Linked DNA regions of Homo sapiens: region 2 is linked to region 1. Evidence: fine-mapped expression QTL. A gene starts in region 1. The other region holds a variant in brackets. All regions are shown on one strand. Distances are between the middles of the regions.

Evidence for each region. PIP is the estimated chance that this variant, and not a neighbour inherited with it, causes the effect. A credible set is the group of variants that fine-mapping cannot tell apart.
Region 2: its variant is the best candidate, but not a certain one, in a credible set for the expression of TDO2 in sigmoid colon (GTEx, PIP 0.52).

Annotation. Positions count from the first base shown.
Region 1 is chr4:155,900,247-155,905,637 of GRCh38, forward strand. TDO2 (tryptophan 2,3-dioxygenase) reads left to right here and starts at 3,450. Exons shown (of 12, transcript NM_005651.4): 1 at 3,450-3,547; 2 at 3,772-3,877; 3 at 4,821-4,911. The coding sequence starts at 3,513.
Region 2 is chr4:155,838,464-155,843,854 of GRCh38, forward strand. ASIC5 (acid sensing ion channel subunit family member 5) reads right to left here. Exons shown (of 10, transcript NM_017419.3): 5 at 5,218-5,367; 6 at 3,744-3,891; 7 at 350-406. Among named protein-coding and RNA genes, the nearest start is that of ASIC5, 25 kb to the right of the region's middle. The variant G/A (reference allele first, on the strand shown) is at 2,878.

The sequences.
Region 1 (5,391 bases):
GGGAATCAAAGAAAACGTTAGAACAACAAAACAAGGACAAGAAAAAAGCTACTTCACAGCCCAAATGGCAATTTATCTTGTCAACTAAAGTTTATTGAATGGCTGCTATGTTTACAGATGCTTCTTGGCTTAGAAAGGAAAAAATCTGTTAAAAAAAGTAATTATTCAATTCCTAAATATATTATAGCTCCTGATGAACAAGAGCTGTATGTATTAGATTGGCTTCTGCATAAGAAAGTCTGAGCCCGAGATAAGGATTTGGGGGATGGGGATTTATCTGGGAGATGTTCCCAGAAAGTAGTGAGGGACTAAGGAAGTTGAGACAGGAAAAGAGCCATAAATAAATTATTGAGGTCAATGTCAGGAGCAACTGTGGGTTGCTCTGGGCTATTTGAAGAAGGGTGCAGAATCCTTTCAGAATTCCCCTACTGAGTCAGCATTTCTGTGTCTGCCACAATCTACCACTGTTGAGTAAGGAAAAGAGTGGGAAATTGCATTGGCAGACAGGAAGATGTTGCAGCAGTTTTAAGCTGTGAAGGGTAGATGGAAAAAGAAAAGTTAACATCTTATGGAAGAGCACATGTGGTGCTTTGTAGAAAGAAATATTGTGATGGCTGAAGGGATGATCTTTATAAACTCCTATTCACGTTCAGAGTTTAGCTCAATGCAAGTTCCTGCTAATTCTCATTGCTCTACCCTCGCAGGCTCACTCTTTTCTGCACCCTAACCTTAGAAATCAAGAGGAAAGACCTAGAGACAAAGATTTTTGTTATAATGCTTTATATCTGATTTTCATATTCTTTTACTACATGTCTGAAAAAGAAAGTTGCTATATCTCTTAGCTTTCTAGTATTTTTACTTCTGAATATAGATTAGATGGTTTCTAGGGTAACTTTTAGGCCCAGAATTAGTTACGATTTGCATCTTCTTAAACATGCTCATCTACCAGTGTTGCCTCCAGCATCTTCCTTCTCTAAGCCATGTGTGCACAGAATTATGTGCATATGGAAATAGAGTGGGTTTAGAAGGTTACTGCAGATCATTGCCTGTACCCGTAGAATCTCCTCTCTTGATCTGTTAAATGTCTGAGGTTCTATTACATTGTATTATTTGAGTTAAAGTATATTTCCAGAAAGTCTGTGTAAAATATTCAATATATAAATAAATAGGGAGCTGTAGATACTATAGTCATAGAAATTCTAAATCTGAGCCTAGGAGCAGTGGCTCATGCCTGTAATTCCAGCATTTTGGGAGGCTGGGATGGGTGGATTGCTTGAGGCCAGAAGTTCAAGACCAGCCTGGTCAACATAGTGAAACCCCATCTCTAAAAATAAAAATAAAAATAAAAATAAAAATAAGAAATAAATTCTAAATGTGATTATAAATAAAAGTTTCCTAATTAGATTATCATCAGATGGACAAATTGGGTTCGAAGTGGCAAAATTTAAGTATTGGCAAATGATGACCAGAATATAACTAGTAATACATTTGATAATGCTATTGCAAAAAATAATGAGGATGTGTGTGTATGGGGGCCTTCCACTGTAGTTACTCTCCTGGATGAAGAAAATAAGTTATTTTTAGATTAGCTTGCAGTTTCTCTGATGCCCCAAAGTCAAGTCTTTCAATGATCAGTTCTTGTGATGTAAAAGCAAATATTGAATTGATACTACTACTTAAGAGTGAAATGTCATTTCTTTAAAAAATTTTTTGTTTCTAAAATATCTATTTTTTCCAATTCATAGGAAAATTTGTTTCCTTATTTGTTTTACTAGTATGTTGACCAATAAGTGAAGGAAACTTCTCAGCTCAAAAGGCTTAAAGAGAGTGGAATAAATTATTTAGCATTATTCTCTGTAAACACGTACCCAGTTGAACAACTATGTAGAGAAAGAGGGGCTGTTAACTGTTCTCTGCTTCCAAACACTCTAAGCCAGGACACCAGGAAAAGCAACAGTGACTCCACCGCTCTCTCAGGTAAGGTCCCTATCCAGTGTGTAGGCAATTTCCAGGATCATTCATAAAAACTCAAGGGAAATGTGACAGGTATAGCATATAGTTTTGATGATTTTCAAGTTCAATTATAACATGGCATTTGCATGTTGTTTATCTTTCTGTACTAGATATATAATTTATTATTCAGTAATAAAATCAAGATTTTAACCTGGGTCAGGATCTTGAAGATTATAATCAGCTTAAACACTTTCTATTTTGGTGAGGAAATTGATATGTACAGAAATTCAGTCAGTTTTTCTCATATTACAAGGTAGTCGTAGAGCCAAGACTAGAAATCAGGTTTCTGACTTCCAATGACTTTGGCTAATTAGACAAAATTCCATCATGGTAGATGATTAAATAAAGGCTAAGTGCTGTTTCTGCCTATAGTTCTTAGTGAGTAGCAGTGGCATGCTAAGGATAAGGCCATGAAGCTTCTATCCTGGCTTAATTGTTCTTGGGGCAATTGTTTAGAGCTTAGATTAATAAATGATGTTTCAAGGAAGAATATTTTTATCACTGACACTGTATAGAATTATGGGCACATGGCTATTATTGGTTCTTGTTGTTGTTGTTGTTGTTGTTTTGTTTTTGTTTTGAGACAAAGTCTCACTCTGTTGCCCAAGCTGGAGTGCCATGGCACAATCTTGGCTCACTGCAACCTCCACCTCCTGGGTTCAAGCGAGTCTCCTGCCTCAGCCTCCCTAGTAGCTGGGACTACAGGCACGCACCACCTTGCCTGGCTAATTTTTTTGTAGTTTTAGTAGAGATAGAGTTTCGCTACGTTGGCCAGGCTGGTCTTGAACTACTGTTTTAAAATTCTATATAGGCAATGTATGCTAATGTGGATGACTGCTAGCTACCCTGTCATTGGTATGCCACAGATGAATAGTAAACTGATAATGTTCATTTAAATTCCAATACAATGTGTTGAGAGCTTAACTGCTGCTGATTATTACATGATATTTAGGTCAGAAGAACTCTGATGATTGAATGGAAGTGGGCTTTGAGCATGTACCCAGACTTTATTATACAGTTAATTTCCCTAGAGGTGTTAAATTTCAGTTTTTGGTCTAGAAGCTGTAAGAATATTCAAATTTGAGAGAATACATATTTGTTTTTTACAAGCTCATCATCTTATGTATCCTAATACTATGCCAAATGTTTTCTTGGGATTGAATAAATGTAATTTTTTTAACTTGGCCTCTGTTGATTCATTGGATGTTTGTTACTTTGAATATAAAAGCAGAACTTGGCAAGTCATACAACTCAATTTGGCAGATCACTCACTCTTAGCAAATGAACTGTGCCCAACATAAATCCACTCTAAAGTTTACAGAGGTTCAGTTCTGTACCAATGGAAATGAGAAGTTAGCTAAGAGTACAAGAAGCATGCTGATTGGCTGATGCAGGGTAAGCAGGCTACATAAAAGGCAGCTGTAGAACATCTGGGAAGGTCAATGATAGCATCTGCCTAGAGTCAAACCTCCGTGCTTCTCAGACAGTGCCTTTTCACCATGAGTGGGTGCCCATTTTTAGGAAACAACTTTGGGTGAGTATTTACCTTTATTCTAAGTGGGTTTTGGCTTTTAGAAGTATCAGGTGTGAGCATTTTAATTTCTGAATTTAAGGAGCATTGAAAACTGTCACCTTTATTCCTTTGTCTAACAATCTACTCTAAAGAAAATTTGCAATGAGAATTTTAATCACCCATATCATTAGTTAACTGTGTTTTCTAAAGCACTATTTTTCCCTCTTGATTTATTAAATTTGCAGATATACTTTTAAAAAACTCCCCGTAGAAGGCAGCGAAGAAGACAAATCACAAACTGGTGTGAATAGAGCCAGCAAAGGAGGTCTTATCTATGGGAACTACCTGCATGTAAGTGGCAGGGTCCTTACAGGGTTTGGTGTCCATTGTTAGGCACTCAATTCTGCCAAGTGACTTTTTATGATTTTATTTCTTGGAATTAGGGAAAGTCACCAATCGTTTTCTGGACCTAAGGATATTTTTATTCATAAACACTTTTACGTTTTCAACTTTTGTTAGAATAATTCAAGAGACTTATAGGATAAAATTCATATCTCCAGTGGAAGTAAGAGCAGAGAATCCAGAATCTGGGAGGCGTATACATGATAAGATACACTGTGGATAATTCACAGGCATTGTGCAACTTGTATAGATAAGACATGGTTAATAAATGTCAGCCTAGATAACTGCAAATGTATCTTGAAAAAGTTCTCCTTTAAATCTCTTATCATGAAGTCGAAATGTAAAAGGCACACAGAGAATTTTCTTAAAATCATTAACATATAAAGAGGGATGTTAATGAATGAGGTATTGGGAGATTATTCTGGGCCAAGTTTCAGCCTGTTTGTCTTCTATTTTTTTTAAGAGGCAAAATGATTAGTCCTTGATGTCTTCATCGGTGAGTTTCTAAGGATTAACTGATAAAGAATGTTAAAATATTCTTAGAATAGGCTCTTTAGGGGAATAAAAGAATGCCAAATGCATAGTCAGCTCAGCAAGTTTTCAAGTTTTCATCATATTCATTTCATGAAAAGGGATATGATGTCTCAAAGAGCTTAATAGGATTTATTATGATAAAATCCTACCAAATAGAAATTTTCTGAGAAGAATAAAAATCACAAATTCAATTCACTCTTTATGATGAGATTCGTCCATTGTTTAAAAGAAACTAGATTGGTTTCTGAGAATTTTGAGTTTGGAGGAGCATTTGTCATTATCATATTCTACTTCTTACTAAAGTTCATAAAAACCAAGTTCTGCAATTTCAGACAGGCTTTTTATTTTTCATTTCAAGTTGGAAAAAGTTTTGAATGCACAAGAACTGCAAAGTGAAACAAAAGGAAATAAAATCCATGATGAACATCTTTTTATCATAACTCATCAAGGTAAGTTGCACAAAGGTTTTGGACAATATTCCACAGGCATTTCTCATTGATAACGAGGAAAGCTACAATTTTTAAACTACAAAATGATGAAAGATCATGGAATCACCTCTGTTAGAAATGTTTGAGAATATTTTGCTGCCAGATGAATTCTCATAGGACTGATATAAGGATTTCAATAGTCTTCTTTATGTTACTCCTCTGCTAATAGGTGAAGTAGGACTTTAGCTTTGTTCTTAACTCCAAGGGGACTTTCTGCCTCTTGGAATTTCACTAGGAATTCACAAGTGAAGATGTTACGTTTCTCACTTCGGAACACTAAAAAACTATTTTCAAGATCATTGAAATTTATGCTGGATTGACATAATCCTATACAAATCTAGTAATAAAGACAAATGTAAATTGTGTCCAAAAATGTATGTTTATCCTTTCCAGATTTCTATAATGATTTCTGGGCAGTGGGTTTTTTTTTAGCCTATGTGT
Region 2 (5,391 bases), 62 kb before region 1:
AATAAAACTTCTATTTATTTTTACATGATTTCCTTTCTATTCTGTAGTATTTTAACTATTCACAATAAACTTGTTTTATTTGTGAAACAATAAAAAGCAGCTAGGATATTTTGATTATAAAAAAGAACAAAATTTAAAAATTTAGATGTGTCTTAATATCAGAGGGTTTTTGTTTGTGTATACTGCCTGTGTTTGTTAGCTACTATTTAAGAACACTTACAAAAAGATCTTCTCTTATATACTATATTCTGTTTAATTTCTGGGCTATCCATAGTTTGACTTAATGTCTTATATTACTTTGAGCAACTTTAATATAAATCCTGAAAATAAAAGTAAATTAAGCACTTACCAAGTACAGGAGAAACACAGCTGAAGTACTTTTGTAGGTCACATTCTATCCCATATCCTTAAAAATAATAAGTGTAACATATAGAGACTTTACATTTTGTAAAATAAGTGATCTAATGACAAAAATACCTTTCTTACCTACATCTATCCATCCATTCATCCACCCACCCATTCTTCTATATGAACATCTATTCTTTCATAAGCAAAACTATGGAATCAAGTTAGTATCCAGTGAAAATATGTGTTGGGAGGAAGAATAATGCTTTTGTTTCTTTCCATACCTCTTTCCATCTGTCTATATCACTCTAAAATCTTTAAGCGGGAATAATAATTTTCAAATGTGAGTAGTTTTCAAATTTAAAATTACTTTCACAGTTATCATCTCATTTGATATGGTTCACAATCCTGTCATATGAGAATTTTCATTTTACAGATAAAGAAACTAAGCCTCAGAAAGAGTGGCTTGCTCAAGACCACACAGTTAGGGGAAACTTGGCACATTCTGTACATCTTCCATCCTGCTCCCTCTATCCATTTACACACACACACACACACACACACACACACACACACGTTCCTGACAGACTGCCATTCCAGAAGTAGGATGGGGAGGGGGCAGGTAAGTACCAATATTTGTTAAGTACCCACTATAGATTGTGAGATAAGTAGAAAATCACTATGTATCAGAGCTGGGTTTACTCCTACGGCTGATTCTAAAGACTTAGTCTTTTAGCCTTAATACAATATTTGTCTATTGCTATAGCCCATGTGACTCAGCAGTTAGCCACAATGTTTAGTCAGTAATCTTGAAAATAACCAAAGGAGATTGTCCACTTACAACGTGCGGACAATTTGTGGAATGTTTGGCTAACTGTAAGGAAGTGCTCTTTATGAATAAAATACAATAAGTAAAAAAAAAAAACTACCTCCAACACTGAGTTAGGAAAAAACCTCATTTTTCTGAATTATTTCTTGCTCTGGCAATAATATTTCTTCCATTATAAAGAGCAATTCAGAAAAAAAAGATGGTAGATGGAACACAGAAAACAAAAATAAAAACAAACAAACAAAAGAACAATGAAATTTTGGAAATAACCAATATCTGAAAAGCTGTTTTGGAGATTGCTTCCTCAAATTGTTAGTGGAATTACCTCAGCGAATTTGTTTAACGTTTAGAATCTTCCGTTTATTCATATATCAGTACACTTAAAGGGATGTGTGAGAATCTAACCAAATAAGATCATATTCCTGAATGCATTTGATATATATGCTAAAGTTCATGCAGATATCATTCTTTGTGTTTTATATAGCACCTTGCCTAGTTTCTGGTCCACATTAGCCAGTAGGTTTTGGTTTAATAATCATAACTTTTAAAATTGTCAACATTATTCTGCATGAAACAATTCAGACTTCTTTCCAGCAACTTTGCCAATAAATTAGGAATGAGAAATCAGAGCCAGAGCCAGCAGTTTTATATAGAACAGCAGTTTTTGCAGTGGCCAGAGATCAATAATCTGGATACTAAAAAGAAGGATGTGATGATTATGGAAACCTCTGGAAAATAATGAAACCACTTTTGCAAAATTTATATCTTTTTTACTTTTATTATTTTTTATATTATATATAATATAATATATATTTTTTATATTTTATATATATTTTATATTTATACATATTTTATATTTATATTTTATATATTTTTTACTTTTATTATTACATTGAAAGAGATTTGACCTAACTGACTCCATCTTGTTTCTAACCTCCAAGCTGTCCTTGTTCATTCTTGGGCGTTCGCTGAACTAACTTTGGGAGGAACTTAGTTTATGGTTTAGCTCTGAAACAAAGACAATAACAGCCCTTTCCCAAAATAAACTCCCTTCCTGCCTGGGGACTAGATTGCCTATATAGGGCTAACAAATTAGCCACAAGATTAGAAATTATGTTTAGGGGTCATGCAGCTGGAGGGTGCAAGATTCTAAACCGCCCCAAATTGCTTATAGTGATAACATTACTATTGTAAAAGCTAAGATCAGTGCTTGAGATATGTTGCAGACCCTGCCTCCAATGATCAGCTGGCACCACCCAGAACAAAAATCTGGCCCATCTGGTTTTGTGACCCCTACCCAGGAATTGACTCAGCGCAAAAAGACAGCTTCAACTCCACATGATTTCATCTCTGATCTCACCAATCAGAACCCCTGATTCACTGGTTCACTGGTCCCCTACCCACCAAATTATCCTTAAAAACTCTTATCTCCGAATACTCAGGGAGACTGATTTGAGTCATAATAAAACTCCAATCTCCCGCACAGCCAGCTCTGCATGAATTAGTTTTTCTCTATTGCAATTCCTTTGTCTTGATAAATCAGCTCTGTCTAGGCAGCAGGCATGGTGAGCCCGTTGGGCAGTTACAATATTTTGGCAGGTAGATTGTGTTACAATATATCTTTCTAGATATGCTGTGGGAGGGGGATGTAAGAGACCTGAATACAAATATCTGACATTTACATAGACTATATTCTGTGCCAG[G/A]CACTATTTGAACCACTTACATACCCCTTTCATTCTTACAACAACCCTATAAGATGGGATTATTATCCCCTCCTCCATTTGACAGCAGAGGAGAGAGGTTAGGTCACTTGTTCAAGATCACCTAGGGGAGAAATTGTAGAGCCGACATGAGCAGCCTGGTTGAGATCCAGCTCTTATTCACCCTGCTCCATTGCTTCCTTGAATGCTTGCCTCTCACCCATGGTTCTGGAAAAGTTGCAAATTGTATGAAAAGGAGGCCTGAAGTTAATTTTACAGTCCCAAAGAAAATAACTTTTCAACAGTGAAATCTTCAGGCTTGGTAAGACATATCCATGATCTAATTTTTCTTTCAAAATTAAGAAAATCTTGGTGTGCTGTTTTAGATATTTGAGACCATCAAATTTTAGCCTTTGGGAGTAAGTATTGGGGCCCCACCCTGATATCGCAATTTTCTCTTCCAGAAATCTCTGCGATGATTTTATAATGTAAAATTTGTCAGTCGAAGTTGTACCTGGCAAATGGATAATTTTCCAGTGTAGAATTTCAGAAGAATGGAAAACAATTTAGTGATATGTTGATTTGCTATGTTTCAAATTAAGTAAATATAAACATAAAATTCAAAGAAATTTAGGACTAAACTTCTGGTGACTTTGTTATTAGTTGTCATTTTAGTCTGCAAAGAGAAGGAACAGGCTTAAGAATATAATAATTTTTCTGTGAATGGGTCAGCAACATCTGTAATTACACTTAATAATACTTAATATTCCATTTGTATTTCAATACTCTATTTCTCCCAGACCTTTTGTAACCCTCTAAGAAACACTTAACTGTCTAGTTAAGTAAGGGGGCAGTTAGTCTTTATTTACCAGGAAGAAGAAAAGGCACACATCCACATTGCTTTTTTATGTGCTGGGCTTTGCATTCCTTCAAGCAACCAGAAGTGCTGTAGCTGCTAAAATTCTGCAGCTTGATGTTAGGATTGCATTCTCCCCAAGGGTATTCTTGATGAACTGTCTTAAGATAAGATAAATACTGGGTTCAGGAGATGTGTTTACATCAATTCACTTATTTTCCATCAAGAAGCTGGTACACATTTTTATTTTCCTCTCAGAGCTCTTTGATTTTCAAAACCAAAATTGGTTACATTTGTCTATTTTGCCTACTCTATTGACCTGAAATTCCCTGAAGCTAAGTATAATAGTGATCCTTAAACATATATCCCAAATGTGAATTAATAAAGTCAGACACATTGAGTATTCTAAAAATCAACTCATATAAGGAAAAAATATCATTTATGTAAATGTTATATTAGTGTAGTAATCAGCTCACCTACAAAACAGTGAAGAAAATCACATTTTAAAAAGATCCTTTAATAAGCAACTATTATGTGCCAGGCAACATGGTGTTGCAGAACTTTCTCCTTAGTTCAGCTAAAACTGGGCTCTTGTCACATGACCAGGAAAAATGAGGCTCGCGGGCAAATAGAAGGGTGAGGAAAATGGAATTTATTGGGTGAAAAGAAAAAAAGAAAAATGACTCTCAGCTAAGTGAGAGAGAGTCCTGCTGGTAGGTTTCCCACCTCACAGATTGAATCTCAGGCCACCACACAGGAACATGAGAGGCCAGGCTCCTCCCCACTGCAAACAGTGCAAACTTCCCAAGGCTCCACCCCTTCCTCCCAATGTGCAGGTGGGCATTTTTCAGAAAGAATCAGGTGGGAAAGGACAGCCTTCATCTGGGACAAGCAGTCCAGTTTTTCAGCCTTCAGGCTGTTTTAGGTTTGAAGGCAGGGTTTCACCAGGGGCCCTTGGCTGTCTCCTGTGTCTATCAATGGTAAGTGCTTTCTTTATGGTACTTCACTTAAACTTCCTTACTATGAAAGAAAAATATTACCCCTTCCCTATTTGTGCAGAGAGGAGATGCAAATTCAGGAAGCTAATTAAAGAAGTTACCGGGCAAGTAAGTGGCTGGCAAACAGAAACCTACCAGACCAGCCTGACTCCAAGATTCCTGCTTTTCCCACTAATTTTCTCCTTCCCAGATAGTCTCATTGAAGAATCATAGCTCAGCAACTTAGGTACCTCTTTATACTTAATGACCCTTTCCATTTCTAATGAAATGTAAAGTTTGGATTTGATAGGCTTCCCAGCTTTCACTTACATAGTTTCTGTTTCCACTAATCATGTACCTTCAGATAAAGGAAAATAATCTGAAATGAAATTTTGGAATTTCTAATGGTGTTTTACAGGCATGGGAGAAAGGAATTTCTAGTGAAAAGCATTACTTATGTGTTTGATGCATTCACTACCCCACCTAATTTCCTCAGACTCGAGTATTTACCTTCACTTGGCGGATGGTTACCCTTGCGTGCATTCCCACAGGTGACAACAAGCCTAACCCATCAAACTGTGGCACCTTCTTTGGTGAATGGATAACAAAGATGATCCCAGCATCAACGAAACCAAGGGCTGGGTTATCAGTGAATGCCTCCTGAAACAAAAATATGTTTTTGCC